3 linked regions of the Homo sapiens genome follow. The protein of the gene in region 3 interacts with the protein of the main gene of each other region in a biochemical or structural test. Each region holds a gene or a part of one and is shown on either strand. Other genes may lie near its edges. The genes, in order: TLR4, LEP and SIGLEC5.

Region 1 (9,975 bases), on a different chromosome or scaffold from region 3:
TGTCCCTGAACCCTATGAACTTTATCCAACCAGGTGCATTTAAAGAAATTAGGCTTCATAAGCTGACTTTAAGAAATAATTTTGATAGTTTAAATGTAATGAAAACTTGTATTCAAGGTCTGGCTGGTTTAGAAGTCCATCGTTTGGTTCTGGGAGAATTTAGAAATGAAGGAAACTTGGAAAAGTTTGACAAATCTGCTCTAGAGGGCCTGTGCAATTTGACCATTGAAGAATTCCGATTAGCATACTTAGACTACTACCTCGATGATATTATTGACTTATTTAATTGTTTGACAAATGTTTCTTCATTTTCCCTGGTGAGTGTGACTATTGAAAGGGTAAAAGACTTTTCTTATAATTTCGGATGGCAACATTTAGAATTAGTTAACTGTAAATTTGGACAGTTTCCCACATTGAAACTCAAATCTCTCAAAAGGCTTACTTTCACTTCCAACAAAGGTGGGAATGCTTTTTCAGAAGTTGATCTACCAAGCCTTGAGTTTCTAGATCTCAGTAGAAATGGCTTGAGTTTCAAAGGTTGCTGTTCTCAAAGTGATTTTGGGACAACCAGCCTAAAGTATTTAGATCTGAGCTTCAATGGTGTTATTACCATGAGTTCAAACTTCTTGGGCTTAGAACAACTAGAACATCTGGATTTCCAGCATTCCAATTTGAAACAAATGAGTGAGTTTTCAGTATTCCTATCACTCAGAAACCTCATTTACCTTGACATTTCTCATACTCACACCAGAGTTGCTTTCAATGGCATCTTCAATGGCTTGTCCAGTCTCGAAGTCTTGAAAATGGCTGGCAATTCTTTCCAGGAAAACTTCCTTCCAGATATCTTCACAGAGCTGAGAAACTTGACCTTCCTGGACCTCTCTCAGTGTCAACTGGAGCAGTTGTCTCCAACAGCATTTAACTCACTCTCCAGTCTTCAGGTACTAAATATGAGCCACAACAACTTCTTTTCATTGGATACGTTTCCTTATAAGTGTCTGAACTCCCTCCAGGTTCTTGATTACAGTCTCAATCACATAATGACTTCCAAAAAACAGGAACTACAGCATTTTCCAAGTAGTCTAGCTTTCTTAAATCTTACTCAGAATGACTTTGCTTGTACTTGTGAACACCAGAGTTTCCTGCAATGGATCAAGGACCAGAGGCAGCTCTTGGTGGAAGTTGAACGAATGGAATGTGCAACACCTTCAGATAAGCAGGGCATGCCTGTGCTGAGTTTGAATATCACCTGTCAGATGAATAAGACCATCATTGGTGTGTCGGTCCTCAGTGTGCTTGTAGTATCTGTTGTAGCAGTTCTGGTCTATAAGTTCTATTTTCACCTGATGCTTCTTGCTGGCTGCATAAAGTATGGTAGAGGTGAAAACATCTATGATGCCTTTGTTATCTACTCAAGCCAGGATGAGGACTGGGTAAGGAATGAGCTAGTAAAGAATTTAGAAGAAGGGGTGCCTCCATTTCAGCTCTGCCTTCACTACAGAGACTTTATTCCCGGTGTGGCCATTGCTGCCAACATCATCCATGAAGGTTTCCATAAAAGCCGAAAGGTGATTGTTGTGGTGTCCCAGCACTTCATCCAGAGCCGCTGGTGTATCTTTGAATATGAGATTGCTCAGACCTGGCAGTTTCTGAGCAGTCGTGCTGGTATCATCTTCATTGTCCTGCAGAAGGTGGAGAAGACCCTGCTCAGGCAGCAGGTGGAGCTGTACCGCCTTCTCAGCAGGAACACTTACCTGGAGTGGGAGGACAGTGTCCTGGGGCGGCACATCTTCTGGAGACGACTCAGAAAAGCCCTGCTGGATGGTAAATCATGGAATCCAGAAGGAACAGTGGGTACAGGATGCAATTGGCAGGAAGCAACATCTATCTGAAGAGGAAAAATAAAAACCTCCTGAGGCATTTCTTGCCCAGCTGGGTCCAACACTTGTTCAGTTAATAAGTATTAAATGCTGCCACATGTCAGGCCTTATGCTAAGGGTGAGTAATTCCATGGTGCACTAGATATGCAGGGCTGCTAATCTCAAGGAGCTTCCAGTGCAGAGGGAATAAATGCTAGACTAAAATACAGAGTCTTCCAGGTGGGCATTTCAACCAACTCAGTCAAGGAACCCATGACAAAGAAAGTCATTTCAACTCTTACCTCATCAAGTTGAATAAAGACAGAGAAAACAGAAAGAGACATTGTTCTTTTCCTGAGTCTTTTGAATGGAAATTGTATTATGTTATAGCCATCATAAAACCATTTTGGTAGTTTTGACTGAACTGGGTGTTCACTTTTTCCTTTTTGATTGAATACAATTTAAATTCTACTTGATGACTGCAGTCGTCAAGGGGCTCCTGATGCAAGATGCCCCTTCCATTTTAAGTCTGTCTCCTTACAGAGGTTAAAGTCTAGTGGCTAATTCCTAAGGAAACCTGATTAACACATGCTCACAACCATCCTGGTCATTCTCGAGCATGTTCTATTTTTTAACTAATCACCCCTGATATATTTTTATTTTTATATATCCAGTTTTCATTTTTTTACGTCTTGCCTATAAGCTAATATCATAAATAAGGTTGTTTAAGACGTGCTTCAAATATCCATATTAACCACTATTTTTCAAGGAAGTATGGAAAAGTACACTCTGTCACTTTGTCACTCGATGTCATTCCAAAGTTATTGCCTACTAAGTAATGACTGTCATGAAAGCAGCATTGAAATAATTTGTTTAAAGGGGGCACTCTTTTAAACGGGAAGAAAATTTCCGCTTCCTGGTCTTATCATGGACAATTTGGGCTAGAGGCAGGAAGGAAGTGGGATGACCTCAGGAGGTCACCTTTTCTTGATTCCAGAAACATATGGGCTGATAAACCCGGGGTGACCTCATGAAATGAGTTGCAGCAGAAGTTTATTTTTTTCAGAACAAGTGATGTTTGATGGACCTCTGAATCTCTTTAGGGAGACACAGATGGCTGGGATCCCTCCCCTGTACCCTTCTCACTGCCAGGAGAACTACGTGTGAAGGTATTCAAGGCAGGGAGTATACATTGCTGTTTCCTGTTGGGCAATGCTCCTTGACCACATTTTGGGAAGAGTGGATGTTATCATTGAGAAAACAATGTGTCTGGAATTAATGGGGTTCTTATAAAGAAGGTTCCCAGAAAAGAATGTTCATCCAGCCTCCTCAGAAACAGAACATTCAAGAAAAGGACAATCAGGATGTCATCAGGGAAATGAAAATAAAAACCACAATGAGATATCACCTTATACCAGGTAGAATGGCTACTATAAAAAAATGAAGTGTCATCAAGGATATAGAGAAATTGGAACCCTTCTTCACTGCTGGAGGGAATGGAAAATGGTGTAGCCGTTATGAAAAACAGTACGGAGGTTTCTCAAAAATTAAAAATAGAACTGCTATATGATCCAGCAATCTCACTTCTGTATATATACCCAAAATAATTGAAATCAGAATTTCAAGAAAATATTTACACTCCCATGTTCATTGTGGCACTCTTCACAATCACTGTTTCCAAAGTTATGGAAACAACCCAAATTTCCATTGAAAAATAAATGGACAAAGAAAATGTGCATATACGTACAATGGGATATTATTCAGCCTAAAAAAAGGGGGAATCCTGTTATTTATGACAACATGAATAAACCCGGAGGCCATTATGCTATGTAAAATGAGCAAGTAACAGAAAGACAAATACTGCCTGATTTCATTTATATGAGGTTCTAAAATAGTCAAACTCATAGAAGCAGAGAATAGAACAGTGGTTCCTAGGGAAAAGGAGGAAGGGAGAAATGAGGAAATAGGGAGTTGTCTAATTGGTATAAAATTATAGTATGCAAGATGAATTAGCTCTAAAGATCAGCTGTATAGCAGAGTTCGTATAATGAACAATACTGTATTATGCACTTAACATTTTGTTAAGAGGGTACCTCTCATGTTAAGTGTTCTTACCATATACATATACACAAGGAAGCTTTTGGAGGTGATGGATATATTTATTACCTTGATTGTGGTGATGGTTTGACAGGTATGTGACTATGTCTAAACTCATCAAATTGTATACATTAAATATATGCAGTTTTATAATATCAATTATGTCTGAATGAAGCTATAAAAAAGAAAAGACAACAAAATTCAGTTGTCAAAACTGGAAATATGACCACAGTCAGAAGTGTTTGTTACTGAGTGTTTCAGAGTGTGTTTGGTTTGAGCAGGTCTAGGGTGATTGAACATCCCTGGGTGTGTTTCCATGTCTCATGTACTAGTGAAAGTAGATGTGTGCATTTGTGCACATATCCCTATGTATCCCTATCAGGGCTGTGTGTATTTGAAAGTGTGTGTGTCCGCATGATCATATCTGTATAGAAGAGAGTGTGATTATATTTCTTGAAGAATACATCCATTTGAAATGGATGTCTATGGCTGTTTGAGATGAGTTCTCTACTCTTGTGCTTGTACAGTAGTCTCCCCTTATCCCTTATGCTTGGTGGATACGTTCTTAGACCCCAAGTGGATCTCTGAGACCGCAGATGGTACCAAACCTCATATATGCAATATTTTTTCCTATACATAAATACCTAAGATAAAGTTCATCTTCTGAATTAGGCACAGTAAGAGATTAACAATAACTAACAATAAAATTGAATAGTTATAATAATATATTGTAATAAAAGTTATGTGAATGTGATCTCTTTCTTTCTCTCTCTCAAAATATCTTACTGTACTGTACTCACCTATTTTCAGACCATAACTGACCATGAAACCTGGGAAAGTGAAACTGTGGATAAGTGAGGAACTAACATACATACATGATTGTTTATCTACAGATGTATGCCTCAGTTTCTTAGTATGCTTGAAAATGTATGATTTTGTGTATATCCGTGCTACATGTAAGTGTGGTTCTATTCATATTTGAATATGAATTCTGCATAAGTGTGTTTATTCAAGCAAATGTACAAGGCTCTGAGAAGGAAGATCAACATACAACTTGGAATATTTCAAGGCCGAAATATTCAAGGCTGACATTGGCCTCCTTCCTATCAGTTCCCTCTCCCAGATGGAAATTCTAGAAATGGCAGGTGAGGTGGACAAGCAGGGAAAGAAATTATATGCATAGAACAGAAGGAGAAGAAAGAGTAAAGTCAGGCCTCAGCCAGCCTCTTTTTAGCTCTTTAAATCCTCTGGATTTAAGAGGGATAAAGGGTGGAATAAGGATAAATTAATGCCAATTGTAATGCCTTAAATTTGTGTGATACCTTACAACTTGAAACATATTCACAAAACTATATATTTGAATATCTCATTAGCTGAGTAAGGTAGCAAATCATAATTAACTTTTTCCATTTTATTGATGGGAAAGCTGAAGTTCAATGAAGTAAATTTTTCAATAGCCCACAGAGTAGGAAAGTGACAAAACCTGAGCCTGGGCCTCCAGGTCACTCAAGGACACTTTCTTTCTTCCACACCCAATTGCTTCATGCTTAAAGTTGGCAAAACAGGAAGTGAAACTCCTGCAGTTTTCTGTGTGGTTGACACTAGCAAGGGTTTCTCAGTTGAAGCCATGAATCATTAAGCCAATACATATGCATATATGTTATACATACCAAATGATTTATTTATAACCCTATCTTTCCATAAAGGACTTGAAGGAGCTTCAAACAAAGGATATGTGAACAATAGGGTTAATCAATAATAAGTAGAAAATCTGGACATAGAATAAAAAGAGGAGAGAAAGACACCGAGAATGAGCGTTAATACAGTGCTTTCCATTTTTCTGGTGTTTTGAGTAGCGTGGCTTTTGGAGAAAGCCAAAACTCAAATTCACTCCTTATCAACTGTGTGCCTTGGGCTCCATTTCTCTGAGAGTCTACTTAGCTCCAATGTAAAATAAGAATAGAACTATGACTTTGTAAGGTTGCTCTAAGGATTGAAAATCATGTATTATGTTCAATACGGGGACACTGTCCTTATGGGTGAGTACTCCCCTAAGACTTTATTAAGAGGGCACTAGGAGAAGCACTGGGAGGTCTTCTCAGTAACAACACTAAAGTAATTGCTATTTTTCCAGCCTGTGGAACCACAGAAGTGACTGTAACTAAAATTAGACATTTCTTTCTGATTCATTCTCTACTCACGGGATTGTCAGACCCCAGTCTTCTTCTGGACTCTATAAACTTTTTAGAAATCATCAGCAGGCTCCTGGAGAAGCTTAAATGAACTCACACAATATGTGACAGTGAACTCCCTGGGAGAGTGAAAACCAAAGTCTAAGCCAGTGTCTCCATTTACTTGTGTGATTGTGGGCAAGTCATTCAAGTGCTTTGAGGCTCAGGTCTTAATTCATGAAATGGAGGTAATAATACCTTGTTGGCAGACCTCACTTGGTTAAAATGATAATGTTGATAGTTACAATAGTTACATTTAATTGATCAATTGTTTTATGCAAGGGCTTTATTTGTGCTATCTCAGTTTGTCACATCAATGAATTAGAAAGATACGAAAGTATTTCCAATTTACAAATGAGGAGTCTGAGTCTGGGAGTCATTCTGTCATGTGTCCACTGTCACCTGCTCATTGGTGGCAGCACTGAGATTAGGATCTAAGTCCACTTCACCGCAGAAGCAGGGCTTCTAAATACTGTTCTATGGCAAGAGCACCCTGCTCTCACAAAATGCATAAAACTTCCTATCTCACCATTATAATTTTGACTGATATTAAACAAAGAGAAGTATTATTATTATTACTTGTTTTTATTTATATTACAGCTGTAAGAGCCAGGAAAAATGTGATCTAAGTTATGTGATCAAAGATTTTTTAACAGTGAACAAATCAGGCCCACTAGATGATGGCCTTTCTTTGAACAACATGCCTAGGGTTGCTCTATCATGTCTACAGTTGGTCTGACTTCCTGACGGGCATCACAGACTTGTGATTAAACACAGAGGTTATGGGGGAAGTTCCAAAAGCTTAGGACTTTCCAGATGGTTGGAATAAGATCACACACTCTGGCTGCCCTTATGGAGATCACCGAACTTTTCAACTCAAAGTAAAATCTGTGGAGTAAATGGTCGATCAAAAGGAACCAACTATATTGAGCACCATGCGTGATCATCTGATCGTTACTGCTACCTTGTGAGTTAAAGGCTACTCTTCTCATTTTAGAAATGAGAAAAGAGATGCCCAGAGAGGACGAGTAACTTGCCTTAGGTCACACAGCTTATATTAATCACAATAACATTTGCCGCACCTTCTGTATTTTTTTTAAGTTGCTAAGCTTTTGGTGCATGTCTGGCACCGTTTTAGTTGTATATTATTTCATTTAATTGTTAAAATGACCTTCTGATGCAGGTATTTGTAGCTTTGCCATTCCACAGATGAAGAAACAGATGAAAGGACTGAATTGTTCAATAGGAAGGAGCAGAATCAGGATATGAACTTGGGTTGGCCTGATTCTTGGGGCTGCATTCTTTCCATAACATAATTGCTTGCTGTGATGTCCTGGGCTACTCTGCCAGGGGTGGTTAGTGGAGTGAATGGAGAATAATTTAGACAAGGTCAGTAACTCCCATGCCATCTAGAAATTAAAAGTTTAAAAGGCAGAGTCTGCAACTCTCCTTGATTTCTACAGAAATAAAGATGATCCCTCCTGTGACAGTGCTAAGTGACAATTCTGAGTGTAAATGCGCTTTTTGGCACAAATTGTCCTGTCCTAATAGTCTTGATTATAATTATAAAATAATGGGTTTCTGAAAGGCTGCAAGCAGTTCTGGGAATGGCAATAAAGGTTTAGAAATGACGTGATGTTTATGAGAGAAGTGTTTTGTTGAAAATTAAACTCACGTTTAGGAGAAAGGATTGTGTTGTATGCTCCTAGGAAACTATCTCACTATGTAATTAAATCAAAACCAGCCAGTTACCAATTTGAGCTCTTGACTCATACTAACAACACCCCATTTCCCATGGGCCAAGCAAGGCAGGACTGACCTGAAATAACCCAGCCTGACTCTATCCACAGCCACCCCAGGACCTTGCCCCTCCGTCTTCCTAGGGCTCGGCCGTGAGATGCTAGTGCATGACCCTTCCTCTTCCTGGGACTGTCCTTGTCTTTCCCTTTGGACTCTGGGAGGTCTGTTCTCCTCCTCAGAAAGGAATAAACACTCTTTCTATTTGTGGGATTCCCTAGGAGACACTATATAAAAATATAGAGTTAAAAAAACTATTTAAAAAAAAGACAACTTCATGTCTCTACTCTGACTTCATTCTTTTTAAGATGGGTAACAAAGACTCTCTTCAAGGTTAGAAAATTTTATTTTAATTTTTATAGATTTAGAGAGTGCAAATGCAGTTTTGTTACATGAATATATTGCATAATGGTTTAGTCTGGGCTGTTAGCGTAACCATCAACTGAACAGTGTACTTTGTACCTATTAGGTACTTTCTCATCCCTTAACCCCTTCCCACCTTTCTGAGTCCTCAATGTCTGTTATTTCATTCTCCATGTCCATGTCTACAAATTATTTAGTTTCCACTCATAAGTGAGAGCATGGATGGAACTGGAGAAGAGTATTTTCTATCCCAAGATCGGTTCCTTGATCTTGTGTCTCCAAATCACTTGCTCTCTCTCTTACATCTTTTCTATCTTCTTCTAGCCTCTTTTTGCAAACTTCATTTTGACAAAGAATTCCAGGCAGTCTACAGCTGATTTTATTTCAATACAACGATTAAAATGGAAACCATATATGAAGATGACAAAGTTGAGCAGGTCCCAAACTCTCACTTTTAAACAAATGCTTGGCTTAAGAATCACTTAATGACTTTCATTCTGCTATCTATGTGTCTGTGTATCTAGGTACTAATTATCTATCTTTATGATCTTTATTGCTAGAAATTCTGGTTCAATATCAGAGGTTAGTCCTAAGGAATTTATATTTTAAAATATTCTCCCAGTTTTCGTGCACAGACAGATTTGGGAATTACTGTTATAATGGAAAATGGAGAATAACCACCCACATTTAATATGGTTATTGGTTTTGTTCTTGAGATTTATTGCTAAGATTCATGATAGCCCAGGCAAGGTCAGATAATGTATTTTTATTTTACACTGTATAGTTGATTCTTCTCAATCCCACTAGATCAGACTCTTTGGGATACTAGGATTGGCCTATTTGATGGTGAGCTCACTACATCCATTTAGATGTTGTGTCCATGCAATCATTTTAGTTCTCCTAGTTTCTACCTATCACGTTGTCATTTTCCCTTCTTTATCATCCTGGGTAGCTGAGACCCCACATAAATATATACCAGAAAAATGTTGTGGTCTTTTCTAAACTCTCTGAGGCATCTGTTGTCAATGTGATGTTGTTTTTTGTTTCCAGTCCAAAATATATCAAAGTAAAATTTAACTCCACTTTTGCTAAGTATTCATCTTGCCTTGAGTACTAAGATTCCAAAAATGACTTTCCCCTCTGAAAAACACAGGATTTCCTTGCGAAAACTTGCTGGGCCACTGCCAATCTTCCCAGAAACTCCTTTTTCCTTATCGTTGAGGGGAATTGGGGAAGTGATCACTGACGGTTGAAATTCAGTAGTTTTGGTCTTTAAGCTGAGACCCTGAGTCTTCTGAGGAGTCTACTGCTCCCCAGTGGGAAACACCTGCTGTCAAAATTTTCCTGCTTGCAAAGAGCACTTTTGAAATTAATGGCAGGGGATGAATATCTGGCTAGTGCTGTGCTCAGCTGAGTTATTAATAGGGCCTTCTGAGTCCTCTCTACACATCATCTTTGGCTGAATTAGCTGTGGTTTCAGCACCTGAGAGTCTAGCACCACTAAAGGCAGGGAATACCTTTGCCAGTTTCTGGCATATTAACAGCTGAGATCAGATAAGTGAACAGCGATAGAGGTAGTGAGGTTTAGGATTCAGGTCTGCCACCGGGAGCGCACCTCTGGGCTCAGG
Region 2 (9,827 bases), on a different chromosome or scaffold from region 3:
TTTGATTTGCTAAATCCCTGTCTTAGTTCACTGTTTCACACCCGCACTGACAGTCTGCTGTCCCCCCAAGGCCCTGGGACATCTGCCAGGCAGTGAAATCAAATGTGCTCTTTAAATACAGCTCAGCTCCACGTCATATTCTCCTTCTCCCTCTTCTCTCCCCACCTCCTCTCCTTCCTTCCCAGGAATGCAACATTGCCCAGGCAGGGGACGGGCCAGGCTGAACTGGACATTTCCAAAAAGTGTTTCTTCTGGAAATTTCACCCAAAAGGAAAGGGTCTGGTATAATGGACTCCCATGTATCTGTCACTTAGCTTTAGCAATTCTCAACATTTTGCTGATCTTGTTGATATATATATATAGATATATAGTTATTTATATAAAGTTTATATAATATTTATAAAAAATTATAAGATAAATTGTTTTGCTGAAGTTTTTTAAGGTTAATCCCAGGCATTGTGCTATTTCACCCTAAACTTCTGTTTGCATCTATCACGAATGCATAAGGAAGCACTGAAGAATAACTACACCACCATGCCATCATTATACCTAGTAAAATTAACTAGAATTTCTTATCAGCATCTGAAATGGAATTGGGACACATGTTCTCAGGAACTTCTGAGGTTGTGTCACTGGCAAAAAAGTTAGAAAGAAAGAAAGAAAGAAAGAAAGAAAGAAAGAAAGAAAGAAAGAAAGAAAGAAAGAAAGAAAGAAAACAGAGCCCCCATTTAAATTTTCCTCATCTCAAAGTTATCTTTTATACAGTTGATTTGGACCTCTATTTGAACTCAGAATGGTTTGTTGAACAAATTAAGATTAAGCGGAATACTAATAAGGAGTCTAACCTTTGATAGGTATGTTTTAAGCTTTTTGAATAATTTGCTTACATGTTAAATAATGGGCTTGCTATCCAAGAATCTCAATTTTTTTTTTTTTTTTTTGAGACAGAGTCTCACCTGCCACCCAGGCTGGAGTGCAGTGGCATGATCTCGGTTCACTGCCACCTCTGCCTCCCGAGTTCAAGCGATTCTCCTGCCTCAGCCTGCCAAGTAGCTGGGATTACACGCACGTGCCACCATGCCTGGCTACTTTTTGTATTTTCAGTAGAGATGGGGTTTTGCTATGTTGGCCAGGCTTGTCTCGAACTCTTGGTCTCAAGTGATCCACCCACCTTGACCTTCCAAAGTGCTGGGATTATAGGCATGAGCCATCGTGCCTGGCCCAAGAATCTCAATTCTTCTGGCCACCAAATCAGAATGGAGGGGTACATTGTGCTGGGCATTGTGCCAAATTAGTTGCATCATGAGGTGATGCTGAACTCTTTATTTCTTCTCTCTTCATTCCCCTCATCCCTCTTTCCCTGTGGATCCTGTCCTTCTTCCATCCCAGTGGATGCCTCTTTCTGTCCTTGCTCTGTCCCGTGTTAAGGGGCCTCTCCAAAGTGGATCCCTTCTTCCCGAGGACCCCTCTCTTTGTCCTCATTCCTTGGGATGGCACAGAGGCCTCTCTCTGGCTCTTGGTGTGTGCTTCCTGTGCCTCCCTGCAACCTGTTTCCCAGTCCTCTCAGCGTCCAAACCCAGCTCTGTTTTCTTTACAGGGTAATCCTTTTGCCTGAATAACTGGCGGCTGGCTGTGGCCAAGCCTGGGGCGGAGCTGACCCCAGTGATGGATGGGGGCCAGCCAGGCCTTGCCCTGTCACACACAAACAGCTCTCCCGAAGCCCCTCCAGGAACGGCGACAGGAAACAAAGAGCAGGGGGCAAAGTTATTTTATTTAGATTTTTTTAAAAACAAACTTTTTTTTTTTTTTTTTTAAGACGGAATCTCGCTCTGTCATCAGGCCGGAGTGCAGTGGCGCGATCTTGGCTCACTGTACTCTCCGCCTCCCAGGTTTAAGCGATTCTCCTGTCTCAGCCTCCCGAGTGGCTGGGACTACAGGCGCCCGCCACCACGCTCAGCTAACTTTTGTGTTTTTAGTAGAGACGGGGTTTCACCATGTTGGCCAGGATGCTCGCCATCTAGTGACCTTGTGATCCCCCCACCTTGGCCTCCCAAAGTGCTGGGATTACAGGCGTGAGCCACCGCACCCGGCCAAACTTTTTTTTTTTTTTTTAAGTTACAAAAACAGACAACCATTTATACTTAGGAAGTTTCACACTCTGGGAATTAGCCATTGTGCCAGGTTTTGTGAGCAAAAGGCTTAAGACACCTCAGCCTGATTAGGTGGTTGTGAGGATCTGGGTCACATTTTCCAGAGCAGCTCTCACCCTGGCCACAGCACCAGCCTCTTCTCTAGAACTTGCTACTCTTAACTCCTTTAATATCAAACTTCTTTACCCTTCAAGGTCCCTTCAGCATGGCCCTTGCCCTCCTGTCTCTTCTTTCTCTGCCTCTCGCTGTAACTCACTGCTCACACTTTTACCTCTGCATCTCCACACACCAAACCTTCCAACAAAACAGGCTTCTCTCTGCAGGCAATTCACATCCCTCACCTCCTTCAAACTCTACCTCGAAACTCCTCTTTTCCAGAAAGCGCTCGGTCTCCCTGGTTCCAGTCCCTCATTACCTGGCTCACGTAATGCTCTGGGTATCAGAGGACCTGGGCTATAGTCCTGGTCCTGCCACCTGTTGGCTGTTATGGTCTTATGTATTTTCTTATTTTTAAATTCTCAGTTATCTTGTTTCAAAGGGATGTGGCTATAATAGAAGCTAAGATGCCCTGAAAAGTAAACATGTTACAAAGTGCAAGCAGGGTTCCCTGTGGGCCCCTGGGCACGGCCCCCCTCAGCTCATACCATTTCCCACCTGCTGTCAACTGCACCATGCATTTGGCTGTTCAGCTGCTGTGGTAAATACCCCACCTTGGCACATGGGTGAGTGCGGTTTGACCACTGGGAATGCAAGATCCCTGAGGGCAGGCCTCAATCTTAATGTTTATTGGGTGAGCTTCTCCAGCCTATAGCACCAGTCAGGGCTGAGCATGAAGCAGGTGCTCAGTCTTAAAGTTAACTGCTTTGATTCAAGTTTCCTTGGACAGATCCACCACCCACTGTGTGATAGCAAAAACACAGCAGCAGGATGGTGGCAGACCCCAAACCTCCTCTTTCATCTTCCTGAATGTGACCTCCAGTGGGAAGGGCCATCCTGGTGGCCTGGCCTGGGGAGTCCTGGCACTCGCCTAGCAGTGCTTGTCAGGTCTCAGGACCACCTGCTAAAGGAGTTTTCTTCACCACTGGAGTAAAAACCCCCCAAGATTTTTGGTAATTTTGGCCTTGCTTGGGTGAGCCAATCAGACAAGAACTACAATTTGGCATGCAAGCCCCAAATAGGAACACTGCCATGTAATAAACCCAGAGTGTGATCAACCCTGGACCATTCAGAGGGTCACACCAAGGACCCCTGCTCTGAAGATCGCAGTCACCAGTGTGGGACCGTCACTCCATGATAGGAAAGACCACTCCCTAGCAGTCGGAGAAAGCCAGAGCTTACCACTGCCCCAACAAATGGCTTTCAGCCCTTTGCGTTTTATTCTGGATGGATTTGAAGCAAAGCATCAGCTTCTCCAGGCTCTTTGGGGTCAGCCAGGGCCAGAAACTTCTCTCCAGGGGGTGCCTGGCCAGGCCTCACAACCCCCCTGAAAGAGCTATTTTCATGAAAAACATCCTAAGCAATTGCAGAAGATAAGAAAATGATCTCACTCCTTCCAAAGAACCCACCACACAAATGTTATTCAGAAAACACATTCTAGATCCTTCTCCCTTCTGCCCAAACATTCCCCACCCCTGGGTGCAGACACCTACATATGACACTTGACAAAACAAATCTTTTTAAAATAACCTGGTCCTTGGAGATCCACTCAGGGCAACACCATTGCAAACACTGTGATGTAACATCAGTCACAGTAGAAATGAAACCAGTTACGAGAGAACTAACTGGAGAGCCACCTTTGCCAGCTCTTGCTCAGATGAACCCAACCCTCGAGTCACTCAAAATGGGTTCAGCTCAGCCAGACCCATCTATGGGATTGGAAACTGCACTCCAGGGAGACCCCTGGCCCTGGCTGACCCCAAAGAGCCTGGAGAAGCTGGTGCTTTGCTTCAAATCCATCCAGAATAAAATGCAGAATAAATAAACATGTGCTTCCAGCTTGTGTTGCTGGGAGTTCCTGCGTGTGTGGATGTGGTCTTCATGGAACTCCTTGGAATTCTCAGAGGGAACCTTGTTCTGGTCATCCAAAGGCTCTGCCTACCCCTCTGCCCTCTCTGAAATCACCCCTGGTCACATTGAGGCATTCAGTGAGGGGGAGATGGGTCAAGAGGGGACAAGACAACTCTTGTTGATGGCTGAAGACCTTGGTGGGAATCCCAGATGCAGCCCACTCTTTGCTGGGTGGACCCCCTTCCTGGTGAGAATAGGATCCTGTGTATATATCTTTGGTTTCAAGCAAAAGGAGGCTTAGGGTCTTATGCCTTTGGAAGAGTGGCTTAGAGGAGTCAGGGAAATTGACAGAGTCCTGGATAAGGGGTGTCCATGCAATGCTCTTCAATCCTGGAGATACCTGGAAGCCAGAGTTCCTTCCCTTAACGTAGTCCTTGCAGGAAGAGTGACCTTCAAGGCCTCAGCACCCAGGGCTGAGGTCCAGCTGCCACAGCATGTCCTGCAGAGACCCCTGCAGCCTGCTCAGGGCCACCACCTCTGTGGAGTAGCCTGAAGCTTCCAGGACACCCCCCAGGCTGTCCAAGGTCTCCAGGCCACTGGCCCAGGGCAAGTGGCAGCTCTTAGAGAAGGCCAGCACGTGAAGAAGATCCCGGAGGTTCTCCAGGTCGTTGGATATTTGGATCACGTTTCTGGAAGGCATACTGGTGAGGATCTGTTGGTAGACTGCCAGTGTCTGGTCCATCTTGGATAAGGTCAGGATGGGGTGGAGCCCAGGAATGAAGTCCAAACCGGTGACTTTCTGTTTGGAGGAGACTGACTGCTATGCAGGAGGAAGAGGGAGAACAAGTGCTCAGCATGTGGGAGGAATCGCTCTCAGAGCCCTCTGCCTTCCCCGTGGGCATGGAGGGTCATTCTCTGGGCTGCCTCCTTCCACCCTCCCTCACCACTTTGGCTCAGGCCCTTGTATCCTGCACCCAGGTGACTGCCAAGCCTCTAAGCTGGTCTCCGAGATTCCTGCTTTTCCCACACCATCCTTCCCTCCACTTCCAGGCCAACTTTCCTAGGTCATTCCTTTCTCTACATGGCCTCTGCTGAAGAACCAGCCATGGTTTCATATGTTTTATTTAGTGGAGTCTGTTCCCCAGGCATCTGAGGTCCTCCATAAGCACCCCCACCCCCAGCCTTCCCTAGTCCCTTCTACCCCCAGCCGAGTCCTCCCTCCCAGTCAGCTTTTCCAGGCAGTCCCTCCTCCTTAGAGATCAAGGCCGTACCCTCAGTGAGGCCCCCCAACCCTGCTCCAGTGACTCCAGTTCCGGGAGGCTCTCCCCATCCATCTGCCCACAGCACTGAGGCTGACACCTCCGTGGTTACTACCCGGGGCTCCCGTGATATTGTGTATTACACCACCCAAGGTGGGGCACTCGGGATCTATCACGTGCAGTCTTGCTGAGTGGCTAATATGCCCAGCTAATTTTTTTTTATTATTTTTAAAGGAGACAAGAGTTTTTATCTATAAAATGCCCAAGACTCTATCTAGTTCTGAGCCATCTTTGCTTCCAGACACCTAACTTCTCCCTAACTGCCCAAGACTACCATAAGACACCCACAATGACCAGGAGACGTGGAAGTCTCCAGAGAGCTCCATGCAGGGGGTAAGGAGGATTCAATTGCTTTAGCTAATTTAGGCCTCATAACAACCTTGTGAATAGTGTGTGATATCCCCATTATCCAGATGATGAAAACAAGGCTTAAAGACAGTAAGGAACTTGCTGAAGATCTCACAGACATCAGAAGTGTGAAGATTCAAACTTAATCTTCCTAATTTCAAATACAGACCTCATCAGGAAAATGGCTGAAGGTCTAGGCCTGCTGGACCCCAGAGAAAAGACCAGGGTGGGCACTGACTGCTATTTGCAAATCAGTAGAGGGTTGAATGTGAAAAAGGGTAGACTCGCTCTTTTGGGTATCTTTGAGCGGCAGGGCCAGAGATCAGCTGGAACTACAAGAACCCTAATGACAAGCACATCTAGAGATGGGATAGAGGCCCTGAGGAGATGCTTCTGGGGGTCTTGTTCCTGCCAATGGGACACAAGGAACTTCACAGCTCCCTCTGGTCGTAGGCACTAAGATTCAAGGAAGTGAAGTCAGGGAGGAAGGCGAGCGCAGAAGGTGGGGACAGAGGGGACAGGAAGGAAAGAGACAGTGGCTGTGCCTGCATGTGGCTCAGCTAATCGCTGAGGCCTGGGTTTCCCCTTGGTAGGTTGAAAATAAGCACGTGAGGCCTCATGAGAATCCTATGATTTTTTTCTTATCTTTAATTTTTATTTTTTTAAAAATTAGAGAGAGAGGTCTTGCCATGTTGCCCAGGCTGGTCTTGAACTCCTGGCCTCAACTGATCCTCCTACCTTGGCCTCCTAAAGCAATGGGCTTACAGATGTGACCCATCATGCCTGATCAAATCCTATGACTTTTATTTATTTATTTATTTATTTTGAGACAAGGTCTCACTCTGTCACCCAGGCTGGAGCACGGTGGCATGATCAGGGCCCACTGCAGCCTCAACCTCCCAGGCTCAGGTGATCCTTCCATCTCAGCCTCCCCTAGCTGGGACCACAGGTACACACCACCATGCCCAGCTAACATTTTTTATTATTTTTGTAGAGATGGGGTCTCCCTATGCTGCCCAGGCTGGTCTCGAACTCTTGGGCTCGAATGATCCTCCTGCTTTGGCCTCCCAAAGTGCTGGGATGACAGGTACAAGCCACCACACCCAGCCCAAATCCTATGATTTTTAAATGGAAACATGTAGCAAAATCAAATGTTCTTGGAGTGGTTTAGAATTAGAACCACTAACCCCTGGAATCTCAGCAGGCAGAGGGGCCAAAAGAAACAACCAGAAAGAGTGGAGCCCTGTGCTTTCAAATCCTTCTCAGCTTCCAGTAGGTGCCTGGCATTCAGGAGGCGTTCAATAAATGTTTCTTGGACTATCTGGGTCCAGTGCCACTAGGAGCCAGTGCTGGGCTGGCTGCAGTTCTACTTTGTCCCCGCATACTCTCCTTACCGTGTGTGAAATGTCATTGATCCTGGTGACAATTGTCTTGATGAGGGTTTTGGTGTCATCTTGGACTTTTTGGATGGGCACAGCTTGGACATAGAAAAGATAGGGCCAAAGCCACAAGAATCCGCACAGGGTTCCCCAATGCATTTTCCTTCCCAGGATGGGCTTCTTGGGCCTGAAAACAGAAGGAACCACACACTGCAAGGAGCCGGTATCTCAGAATACACCCATCTTCACATTACCAACCACATTACCAGACGGGGATGAAAATCAGCTTTGCTTTCTGCTCTGGCTACCATCCCCTCAAAGTCAAAGACAATTCATGATCTACATATGTATTAATGAAATGCATCCCCTTAGAAAGAGGATTATTGTCTGGTCAATAAAACCACCATGAGGTATCCTGTAGACCACAGAGCTGTGAGGCCAGGGTGTGATCAAATGGACATGGTAGGGATGATGTAGACTTCATTGCATGCTCGAGGGAAAGATAACAGACTTTTAAGGTCTGGTTTGAACCCAGTCATTTACTCACTGCATAATTTTAAACATATCACATAACCACAAAATACTCCACCTTCATCCCTGTAATATATCTATCTCTAGGCTTTTATGAGGATCAAATTATCTGATGCACGTGAAAGGGCTTAAAGGTGTTGTGAAATGTGCTCTATCATTACCCTATCATTAGCGATTATGCTACTCACCCATCCTCTGCATTTCTCCCTCACACCAGCCTGCTGATACTCTGTGAGGGCCTTTACCACTTGCTTCCTTACGTCCTTTCTCTCCCACCCACTGGGAGCCTGAATCCCACTAGCACTTACTGACCTTCTAAATAATATGTCAGACGCAGTGCTCAGCACCGAGGATGCAATGGTGAACAACAGATGCTCTCTACCCTCGAGTGGCTTACAGTTTAATAGGAGAAACAAACAGGTCAATGGGCCATTCTAAGCCAGGAGGAAAGAGCTTTGCAAAAAGGGCAGGTACAAGATACTACTGGAAGGCACAGGGGGCTCCCTGGAAGAAGTGTCTCCTGAGCTGGGGATTGGACTAAATATGGGCTACTAAGAGTAGAAAGTGGTTGCCATAGTGGCTGAGAAATCAGGGGGTATAAAGACATGGTGGCGGGAGAGAGCATAACACATTCACCCAGAACGCTTGAAACTTTCAAAGTCTTGGAACTGTGAATTCTAAAATTAAAATAATATGCAGATCCTTGATTAAGCAGCAAAATTTTAATGAGATACATGAGGCAAAAGGTAATAAAGTTAAATGTATGCGAGTCTGTGGCCAATGATCCATGCTAAGTATATGTGCATGAGCCTGAAATAATAATAAAATGTAAGTAAATATTAGGATGACGGTTCTGGAGATGGCAGTAAAATTAATCTCCGCTTTTCGTGTTCTTCCTCGTCTGGGTCTTGATGAAGACAGGTAATACATTTTCTGTCCATAGATGGCAATATTAGTAGGATTCATTTCTGGCAATACAATAAAAACAAGCAGTCTGTCTATATATTATTTATAATGTTTGATCAAAGCCATGTTTTTTTAATCTGAATTTCACAGAAGAGAAAAATATGGGGCTCAGGAATAGGAGTCAACTTGCCCAAAGTCAAACAGGTCCATGACAGAGTCAGGATTCAGATCCAGAAAGCAGGAGTGCGAGCCACCCACCCCTCCAGCTCCTCAAGGATTTAAGGAAAAGCCCAAATCACACCCCAATTCCCAGTCAAGGGCAGCTGCTGGGAACATGGCATTTGGAAACAAATACCCTGCTCTGGAATAAAGCTATGGTATTGTACCCACATCTCAACTTCAAACATGAAAAGTACTATGTACCAAGTAATTTGGGAAAAGGCAAATTTATGTCTTAAAAAAGTAAAACTTCCTCTATTAGCTACTTGTTACCTGAATAATACACCAAATGTTTGTGCAACAGAGTTAAATACTGCTAATCCCCGATACGAAGTCATGAAACCCTAGCAGAGATGGGCGGGTGTAGTGATTAGGCTCTGCGGCTCCAGCTGCAGGCTCCACTCTTGTTAGCTTTGTGTCTCCTGGCAAGATGCTTCCTTAAAGCATCCTTTCCTTTCCTCCTACCCAAGAGAATTTATTACCAGATTAACTGTGGTCATAGTCACTCTCAAATAATGGCCACCCTCTAATACCTAAGTGGAAAAACAGTTTTACAAGCCCCCTCTATCACCACTGATAATATGCTTCAGTGGATGCTGGAAATAAATTGTGGTTCCTTGAAAACATGGAGCTGAGAAGCTGCCGCTGAGTAAGGCTGCCTAATAGGAGAGGCCAGGTTTAGGAGAAACCTATGGGGGTCTGCAGAGAGAACTGGTAGCAGGTCCATCTGAGACCAAAGTGCTCGCAAGAATCTGCCCCACCAACACACAACACATAACACACATGCTCATACAAACATCACACACACACGCACATCAACACAGATCACCCTTTTAGTAGAGGCTGCTAGTCTTTCCCAATATCTTGTCTTCCGTTCTTCCCCAGTCATAGAAAACTCCAAGTCTTAGGTAGGGATATGGCCATCTAGAATAAATACTTTACTTCTCAGAGTCTCCCAACTAGGTGTG
Region 3 (10,328 bases):
CACAAAGAGAGGGTGAAAATAAAAAATAGAATTCCCAAGATCAATGTCACCTCCTCAGTTGCTCCCAGGACAATAACTCTTCTCTGAGCACTGGGGGATTCCAGATGGGAGTTAGTGGGAGATATATCTTAAGAGGATGTGGTAGAACATAAACCTTTTACCTAAGGAGTCACTGTGAGAGTGACAGGGGCACAAGTTCTCCAAGAGTGAGCAACAAGAGGTGGAGATGAGGGTGGGACCACACATGGAGTTACTCATCACTCCGAAGGGACCCTGGAGCCAAATGGAGAGGAAACACCCATTACCTTCTCTCAAAAAGGTGCTGCCTTCTCCTTTCAGGGACCTGAGACCCATGACTGCTACCTCACTCCTTGTCTCAGTGGTCACCTTTACTTCTGGGCTTCAGGTGCTCTGCAGGTGCCCTTCAGTTTTCCCCTTTGGAAGCCAGAGAAACATGGAGAGAATCAGCCTCCTTAGCATGGCTTATGGGAGCTGGAGTAGGATGTCAGGGTCCTGGGGAGAAAAGACCTTTGGATGTGCAGGTCCTGTGGAGGCAAGACCTCAGAGAGGTAGAGCTCAGTGTCTGGGCCAGGGGTCAAGTTTTCAATCTTTCTCTTTATAAATAGTGTTATTGGCTGGGCGTGGTGGCTCACACCTGTAATCCCAGCACTTTGGGAGGCCAAGGTGGGTGGATCATGAGGTCAGGAGATCGAGACCATCCTGACCAACATGGTAAAACCCCGTCTCTACTAAAAATTCGAAAATTAGCTGGGCGTGGTGGGGTGTGCTTGTAGTCCCAGCTACTCCGGAGGCTGAGGCAGGAGAATCGCTTGAACCTGGGAGGCGGAGGTTGCAGTGAGCCAAAATCACGCCACTGCACTCCAGCCTGGGTGACAGAGCACGACTCTGTCTCAAAAAAAATAATAATAAATAATAAAAATAAACAAATAAATAAATAGTGTTATTTATGTTTTGCTCAGAAATCCTACCTACCTCAAATTCATGGCGATTTCCTGCTATATTATTTTCTAACAGCTCTATTGTTTTCTTTGTCATATTTAGACCTTCAAGCTACCTGTACTTGACTTTTATGCATGAGCTGGGAGTCAAATTTCATTGCAAACTTACTGCAAACTTGATTGCATTAAGTTTTGCCCACAGATATTTTTTGAAAAGTTGGCCGGGCCCAGTGGCTCATGCCTGTAATCCCAACACTTTGGGAGGTTGAGGTGGGAGGACCGCTTGAGCCCAGAAGTTTGAGACCAGCCTGGGCAACATAGTGAGAACCTGTCTCTACAAAAAATTAAAAAATTAGCCAAGCATAATGGTGCATTCCTGTAGTCCCAGCTATTTGGGAGGCTGAGATGAGAGGAGTGCCTGAGCCCAGAGAAATAGAGACTGTGGTGAGCCCTGATCACACCATTGTACTCCATCCTAGGTGACAGAGACACTGTCTCAAAAAAAATTAAATAAATAAAAACCCAAAATAAATAAAAAGAAAAATTTATTATTTGCCACTTCCTCTATCACACTTGATGTTTCCTGTGGTTGAGGTCTATTTCCAGGCACTCAATTTTGTTCCACTTGGTCAATACATAATTGTCACTTTTTTTTTTCAGACAAGGTCTCACTGTGTCACTTTGTCACCTTGGATGGAGTGCAGTGCTGCAATCTTGGCTCACTGCAACCTCCACCTCCTGGGCTCAAGTGATCCTCCCACCTCAGCCTCTCAAGTAGCTGAGACTACAGGCATGAGCCACCCATGCCCAGCTAATTTTTGTGTTTTTTGTACAGATGGGGTGTCACCATGTTGCCCAGGCTGGTCTTGAATTCCTGGGCTCAAGTAATCCTTCTGCCTCGGTCTCCCATAGCGCTGGTATTACAGGTGTGAACCATTGAAATGGGCCTATTTTCTCACATTTTTAAAAATTTGAGACAGTCTCACTCTGTCACCCTGGGTGGAATGCAGTGGCACAATCTTAGCTCACTGCAACCTCCACCTCCTGGGTTCAAGCAATTCTTGTGCCTCAGCCTCCTGAGCAGCTGAGATTACAGGCACATGCCACGATGCCCAGCTAATTTTTGTTATTTTTTAGTAGAGACAGGGTTTCACCATGTTGGTCAGGCTGCTTTCAAACTCCTGACCTTAAGTGATCCATCTGCCTCGGCCTCCTAAAGTGCGGGGATTACAGATGTGAGCCACTGTGCCCCGTCTGAAATGGTCATATTTTCTGTAATGTTATGATACATCTTTTTATCTTGCAAAGCCATTCATTGTTCTTCATGGTTGCCTTGACCATACTTGAACATTTCTACTTCAGTATAAATTTTACAATAGAGTTACCAAATTGCACAAAAATCACCCGGGAGATTGTATGACATATTCCTTTGATGCTGTAGATTGTTGGGTAAAATTGGCATTCATACAATATTGTTCTCAAACTCATCAACATGGCCTCTTTTTCAGTTTATTTACATCTTGATTTATTTATTTTTTATTTATTTATTTTCTTGAGACGGAGTCTTGGTCTGTCGCCCAGGCTGGAGTGCAATAGTGCAATCTCGACTCACTGCAACCTCCATCTCTCAGGTTCAAGTGATTCTCCTGCCTTGGCCTACTGAGTAGCTGGGACTACAGGTGCCTGCCACCACACCCAGCTAATTTTTGTATTTTTAGTAGAGATGGGGTTTCACCAGGTTGGCCAGGGTGGTCTCGAACTCCTGACCTCAGGTGATCCACACGCCTCGGCCTCCCAAAGTGTTGGCATTACAGGCGTGAGCCACTGCGCCCAGCCTATTTACATCTTTAATGTCCTTGAATACAGATTTATAATTTCCTCCATAGAGGTGACATATACATATTTTTGTTAGATACATCTCTAATAGTTAGATATATTCCATATATTCAAAAATTATATCATATTTTTTGATATTGATAAATTATATCATAATTTTTGAAGCTTTTGTCAATGGCATTTTTATAAAATTCCATTTTTATTACTGTGATGTGGAAAGACAACTGATTTTGTAATTTGATTAATCTCTGGCTGTCTTGCAAATATTTTATTAAGGCTTCAAATGTATCCGTATATACTTTTGGATTTTTCTTTTTTTTTTTTTGAGATGGAGTGTCGCTCTGTCGCCCAGGCTGGAGTGCAGTGGTGTGATCTCCACTCACTGCAAGCTCCACCTCCCAGGTTCACACCATTCTCCTGCCTCAGCCTCCCGAGTAGCTGGGACTACAGGCGCCCACCACCACGCCCGGCTAATTTTTTGTATTTTTAGTAGAGATGGGGTTTCACCATGTTAGCCAGGATGGTCTTGATCTCCTGACCTCGTGATCCGCCTGCCTCAGCCTCCCAAAGTGCTGGGATTACAGGCGTGAGCTACCACGCTTAGCCTGGATTTTTCTATATGTGCAGTCATGTCATTGATAAAGACCTCTGTTAAAATTTCATTGTAATTGCTGTACCTTTTGCTTATTTTTATTGCCTTATTATGCTAGGACCTGAAGCTACTTCATTAGGTATATGATGTTTGCTGAAGACACCCTTTATCTTGTTTGGGAAATTCTCTAAAGAGAATTTCTAGTTGGCTATGAATTATATCATAAAGGGATTTGAAATCACCCAATGCTCACTTATTCATCTCTTGAGATTTAATTAGTTAAGGCTGATGTGAAAACAGAAGCCATACTATGTATTTTAGGAGAGGGAATTTAATATTAAGATTTTAATATAAAGATAAAAATACCATTTTCCTACATAATCAAGTCTTTATCTTTAGATCCTACTAGCCGGTATGATGAATTACTTTCACAGTTCAAATGAGGAATAAAGTTCAGAATTTGCAATAAGAAAAAGAAAAAAGAAAAAATTATTCTGACACCTGTTAACATTGACTATTCAGGATGACTGAGACAGGTATCAAGACTAGTGCAGGCCAGGCACAGTGGCTCATGCCTGTAATCCCAACACTTTGGGAGGCAAGGCAGGGAAATGACCTGAGGTCAGGCATTCGAGACCAGCCTGGCCAACATGGTGAAACCCCCATCTTTACTAAAAATACAAAAATAAGCTGGGCATGGTGGCATGCACCTGTACTCCCAGCTACTCAGGAAGCTGAGATAGGAGAATCGCTTGTACCTGGGAGGGGGAGGTTGCAGTGAGCTAAGGTTGCACCACTGTACTCCAGCTGGGACAACACAGTGAGACCCCGTCTCAGAAGAAAAAAACAGAAGTCAATTAAAAAAAAAAAAAGACTAGTGCAATAATGGAGATAGGTCAGGCTCAACTCGGAATACAGCAAAGACCAGGGGGGTTTATGGGCAAGAAGCATAGTGCAGCAGGTGAGGGAGGCTGGCCGTGTGTGTTAGTGGACGGAAAACTACTAAGAGGAGACACTGAAGATACCGGGATTCTTTCTAAACTGACTTAACAGGATTCTTGCTGAAAGCAGGCCAGCATGATCAGATACCAAGGGTGAGGGCTAGGGAATTTGATCAGATAGTGAAGGCGATCAGATATCAAGAGTCTTGCAAAACCAACTTAGCAGGATTCTTGCTACAGCTGGACAAGGCAGTCCCAAGGACAAAGCCTAGTTGAAAAAAGGGTTCAGAGGAGCTTTCATAAGTTTGGTTAAGAAGAGAGTCTTTGTGACTCTTTAGAAAAAAAAATACAAAAATACAAAATTTGGCACACATAGGATGATTTTTGGACTGAGAAAACACATCAAATCACAAAATCTAAAATGTCAAAATATGAGACAACTCAGAAAAATGGCATACTATGTTTGTTAATAGTATAGTCTACCTGTCTGCTACACCTGCATACTTTTTCCCTATATTTTTGACTGATTTTCTTTGATTGCCTTCATAATGGTGATAATTTTTTTCTTTTTGAGACAGAGTCTCACTTGGTCACCCAGGCTGGAGTGCAGTACCGTGATCTTGGCTCACTGCAACCTCTGCCTCCTGGGTTCAAGTGATTCTCCTGCCTCAGCCTCTGGAGTAGCTGGGACTATAGGTGTGCGCCACTATGCCTGGCTAAATTTTTGTACTTTTAGTAGAGAGGAGGTTTCTCCATGTTGGCCAGGCTGGTCTCGAACTCCTGATCTCAGGTGGTCCACCCGCCTCCTCCTCCCAAAGTGCTTGGGATTACAGATGTGAGCCACTGTACCCGGCCAATATTGGAGAATAATTTTATAATACAATTTTTATAGATAGAATAGAAAGAGAAGTCGGTATTTCTTCTGGCATGGGTGGTTGACGTTTGTTTTGATCATTGATAGTTTAAGAAACTGTCTTTATTCTCACAACACATTAATCGGAATGTGAAAAATTTTTAATATATTGTTAAATTTTGGGAAACTATTATGAAATTTCTTTCATAAAAGAGCAGTAACAAGGCAGGTTATTTCCACACATTGCGTGGGCCCCTCCTGGGCATCTGAAAAGTGGATCCTGCAAGGGAGGGCATTGAAGATTGAGCTTCATCAGCCTCACAGTGGCAAATTTGCTTCTGTAGCTCCTTAATAGGATGAGGCTTTAGCAGGGCTTGTGTTTCACTGCCGTCCCACAAGACCCTCAGGTCCATCAAGACCCAAAGTGGACTGTGCTGTGTCCCAAGAATCTTCTTAACATAAGAGTGCTTCAGCTCTCTCATGCTCTGACCCTCCACGAAATTTGGGTCAAAAAAATTTTTTTTCAGCCCTTTTGAACTTTTTTTTTTTTTTTTTTAAGGCAGGGTTTCACTCTGTTGCCCAGGCTGGAATGCCGTAGTGCGATCACGGCTCACAGCAACCTCAAACTCCTGGGCTCAAGGAATTCTCCTATTTCAGTGCCCCGGAGGAGCTGAGACTATAGGTGTGCCACCACACCAGCTAATAGTTTTTATTTTTTGTAGAGATGGTGACTTGCTATGTTGCCCAGGCTGGTCTCAGACTCCTGGGCTCAAACAACCCTCCCACCTCAGCCTCCCGAAGTGCTGGGATTACAGGCATGAGCTACCATGCCTGGTCACTTTGAACATTTAAAATCAAATTTAAAATTATGTATTTCCAGAATGTTTCATGGTTTTTAGGTGGAGGGTGGTTCTGACATCTCACCTCATCACCAGGACAAGCCCTTGTTTCTCTTTTCTTTCTGCATTCAGCCCCCTGAGGATCTCACTCATGACTGAAACATCATTTGAGGGGTGATCACCTCCAGATCCTCAGCTGGACAAGCCTCACATCGTCTGGGGGCCTCAGTATCTTCACCTGCGGCGTCCAGTCGGGGTGGGAGCAGAATGGCTTCCCAGCCCCCGCCTCACCCCAACAGCACGTGATGCCCAAGTTCCCCTTCTGTGCGCGTCCACAGCTCTCACTCACCCTCCGGCTTCCTGTCGGGGCTTTCTCAGCCCCACCCCACGTTTGGACATTTGGAGCATTTCCTTCCCTGACAGCCGGACCTGGGACTGGGCTGGGGCCCTGGCGGATGGAGACATGCTGCCCCTGCTGCTGCTGCCCCTGCTGTGGGGGGGTGAGTGAGCTGAGGGAGGAGGGACAGGCACAGGGGTGAGAAGGGGGGCTGGAGCTGCAGCTGAGCTTCTGTGTCCCCCCAGGGTCCCTGCAGGAGAAGCCAGTGTACGAGCTGCAAGTGCAGAAGTCGGTGACGGTGCAGGAGGGCCTGTGCGTCCTTGTGCCCTGCTCCTTCTCTTACCCCTGGAGATCCTGGTATTCCTCTCCCCCACTCTACGTCTACTGGTTCCGGGACGGGGAGATCCCATACTACGCTGAGGTTGTGGCCACAAACAACCCAGACAGAAGAGTGAAGCCAGAGACCCAGGGCCGATTCCGCCTCCTTGGGGATGTCCAGAAGAAGAACTGCTCCCTGAGCATCGGAGATGCCAGAATGGAGGACACGGGAAGCTATTTCTTCCGCGTGGAGAGAGGAAGGGATGTAAAATATAGCTACCAACAGAATAAGCTGAACTTGGAGGTGACAGGTATGGCAGGGACCCCAGGAGAGGACCCTGGGACGTGGAGACCCCCGTATGAGAACAGGGACAGGAGTTGGGCAGGGGCGGCTGGAGGAGGTGTAGGACTTGGGGCAGGTCGGGGCCTGAGGCCTGGCCACTCTCGGGGTCACACCTTACGTCCTCAAGCCCCTGGGGCCCAGGTATCTCCCTGTCTCCTCCTCAGCCCTGATAGAGAAACCCGACATCCACTTTCTGGAGCCTCTGGAGTCCGGCCGCCCCACAAGGCTGAGCTGCAGCCTTCCAGGATCCTGTGAAGCGGGACCACCTCTCACATTCTCCTGGACGGGGAATGCCCTCAGCCCCCTGGACCCCGAGACCACCCGCTCCTCGGAGCTCACCCTCACCCCCAGGCCCGAGGACCATGGCACCAACCTCACCTGTCAGATGAAACGCCAAGGAGCTCAGGTGACCACGGAGAGAACTGTCCAGCTCAATGTCTCCTGTGAGTGGTGCTGGGGACACAGCTGAGTCCTCAAGGGCAGTGGGAGTGAGGGGTGTGTGTGTGTGTGTGTGTGTGTGTGTGTGTGTAAGGAAGACAGAGAGAAACAAAACAATAACTTGAGAAACCTTGTGTGTGGATCTAAGCCTTGGGATCTGCGGGGAGTGAGACAGGACAGCCTTCCCCGCTTGGTGGGTTTCTGTGGCTCCTCTTTGGGTACCTCCTGGGCCCATGCCCATCTCACTCCTCACTGCTGAAGCCAAGTTTATATCTTTTTATCCCAGATGCTCCACAGACCATCACCATCTTCAGGAACGGCATAGGTAGGAAAGACCTCCTCTCTGAAGCTGGGACCTGCCTCTGGGTCTGTCTCTGAGCAGAGGTAGAGAATCAGAGCTTGAATGCAATCAGATTTGGGAAGAGCAAGAATGAGAATTACTGCCTTCTGGCTTCCACCTTCTGTGAGCCCCATGTGCAGGCACATATGCACACACGCACATACACACGCACACATGCACACACGCACACACACACGCACACACACACATGCATATACACCACACACATACACATGCAATACACCACACACACACGCACATACACACACACATGCACACAGGCACACATGCACACACACCACACACATATGCACACACACACATACACCACACAGGCACATGCACATACACACGCACACATGCACATACACCACACACACATATGCAGATACACCCACACACGCACACATGTACGTACACCCGCACACGCACACACACACGCACACAGGTGCACACTCATGCACTCTGCTCAAAGCAGTGAACAGACTTTAGACCCCACCCATCTCCCATCCCTCCTGTGGTCTGGTTCTTTCCACAGTCACTAAGGACCACTCCATGCCCCTCTCATCTCAGTCAGCCCAGCTCTGTGGTTCTTCTCTCACCCTTCCACTCCTGCATCCTCAGTCTTATTTCCTGTCACATTAGCGGACTGTATTTCCCAACGCCACCGGGGGCTCTCTGTCCTCTCTCCACCACAGTCCAGGCATGTACCAGTGAGATATTGAGCCTCCTCTGGAGACATGAGACTCAGACACTTTTGGTCAGTTTCCTGAGTGTGCAAAGGCCCAGCCTTTGAACCAGGATGCAATCAAGCCAGCATAGGCCAGGGGAGGAGAGGGAGATGTCATCTGGATCCTGGGAAGGAGGGAAGGATAGGGACTGTCAGCCTCCCTGGCCCCATCTCTCTTTCCCCACCCTTCTCTCCCCAAAGCCCTAGAGATCCTGCAAAACACCTCATACCTTCCGGTCCTGGAGGGCCAGGCTCTGCGGCTGCTCTGTGATGCTCCCAGCAACCCCCCTGCACACCTGAGCTGGTTCCAGGGCTCCCCTGCCCTGAACGCCACCCCCATCTCCAATACCGGGATCTTGGAGCTTCGTCGAGTAAGGTCTGCAGAAGAAGGAGGCTTCACCTGCCGCGCTCAGCACCCGCTGGGCTTCCTGCAAATTTTTCTGAATCTCTCAGTTTACTGTGAGTGTGGGGGCAGCTGGAGCAGGAACTGCATGGTATTAAAGAAGGAAGAGGCCCCCTGCTGAGTTCTGTCCTCCCTCCCCACAGCCCTCCCACAGTTGCTGGGCCCCTCCTGCTCCTGGGAGGCTGAGGGTCTGCACTGCAGATGCTCCTTTCGAGCCCGGCCGGCCCCCTCCCTGTGCTGGCGGCTTGAGGAGAAGCCGCTGGAGGGGAACAGCAGCCAGGGCTCATTCAAGGTCAACTCCAGCTCAGCTGGGCCCTGGGCCAACAGCTCCCTGATCCTCCACGGGGGGCTCAGCTCCGACCTCAAAGTCAGCTGCAAGGCCTGGAACATCTATGGGTCCCAGAGCGGCTCTGTCCTGCTGCTGCAAGGTCAGGGGGCGTATTGCAGAGGGCAGGGGCCTGAGGGGAGGGGCATGGATCCCAGAGTGATGGATGGTGGGAGAGAGAGGCTGGACTGGTGGTGGGGAGACAGGGTTCTTCATCTCCTGTCTGAGCAGGGCCCTGGAGCAAGTTGCCCAGCAGGTGGGAGGACAAGAGTCTGAGTCCTGGGAGTGAGTTATTGCACGCCCCTCTTTTCTGCAGGGAGATCGAACCTCGGGACAGGAGTGGTTCCTGCAGCCCTTGGTGGTGCTGGTGTCATGGCCCTGCTCTGTATCTGTCTGTGCCTCATCTTCTTTTTAATGTAAGTCTTGGTCCCAGGGAAGGTACAGGGTGGTGTTTGTAGGGAGTAGGAGAGACTGAATCTCAGAAACACAGAGCTAAGGCCAGAGGTGGTGATGTGTGCTTGTGGTTCCAGATGCTCAGGAGTCTGAGGCAGGAGGATCACTTGATCATGGAGGTTGAGGCTGCAGTGAGCCAGGATTGTGCCAATGCACTCCATCCTGGGCCTCAGAGTGAGAGACCCTGTCTTAAAAGAAAAACAAAACAAAACAAAAAGCAGAACTGAGTAGATCCAGAGAGGTCTTCTTTCTTTTTTTCTTTTCTAATAGCTTTATTGAGATACATGTTTTGTACAATTCATCCACTGAAAGTGTACGAGTCAATGGCTTTAAGTATATTGACAGAGTTATGCATCTGTCACCAAAATCAATTTTAGAACATTTTCATCAGCCTAAAGTGAAAAACGAAGACATAAAGAAACCTTGCACCCCTTAGCTATCACTCCTGCTTCTTTCCCCCAGCCCTAACCTATTCCATGTCTCTGTGGATTTGTCTGTCCTGAAGTTGCAGTTGTACTTTGTGTGAATGGAATCACGCGATATGTGGTCCTTTGTGGCTGGCTTCTTTCACTCGGCCTAATGTTTTCAAGATTCATCTATGTTGTAGCATGCATCGATACT

What was found.
Region 1: the proteins of SIGLEC5 (region 3) and TLR4 form a complex in vitro, tested with the Homo sapiens proteins (one study listed by IntAct).
Region 2: the proteins of SIGLEC5 (region 3) and LEP interact in a biophysical measurement, tested with the Homo sapiens proteins (one study listed by IntAct).

The regions. Positions count from the first base shown.
Region 1 is NC_000009.12:117,712,757-117,722,731, forward strand, and holds part of TLR4 (toll-like receptor 4 isoform A precursor), read left to right. Parts: coding exon 1-1,892; 3' UTR 1,893-9,975.
Region 2 is NC_000007.14:128,249,554-128,259,380, reverse strand, and holds the end of LEP (leptin precursor), read right to left. Parts: intron 7,391-9,827; 5' UTR 7,363-7,390; coding exon 7,219-7,362; intron 4,978-7,218; coding exon 4,618-4,977; 3' UTR 1,752-4,617; downstream 1-1,751. UniProt on the Homo sapiens protein: Key player in the regulation of energy balance and body weight control. Once released into the circulation, has central and peripheral effects by binding LEPR, found in many tissues, which results in the activation of several major signaling pathways.
Region 3 is NC_000019.10:51,626,491-51,636,818, reverse strand, and holds the start of SIGLEC5 (sialic acid-binding Ig-like lectin 5 isoform 1 precursor), read left to right. Parts: upstream 1-6,417; 5' UTR 6,418-6,483; coding exon 6,484-6,520; intron 6,521-6,602; coding exon 6,603-6,986; intron 6,987-7,182; coding exon 7,183-7,461; intron 7,462-7,742; coding exon 7,743-7,781; intron 7,782-8,727; coding exon 8,728-8,985; intron 8,986-9,072; coding exon 9,073-9,357; intron 9,358-9,570; coding exon 9,571-9,670; intron 9,671-10,328. UniProt on the Homo sapiens protein: Putative adhesion molecule that mediates sialic-acid dependent binding to cells. Binds equally to alpha-2,3-linked and alpha-2,6-linked sialic acid. The sialic acid recognition site may be masked by cis interactions with sialic acids on the same cell surface.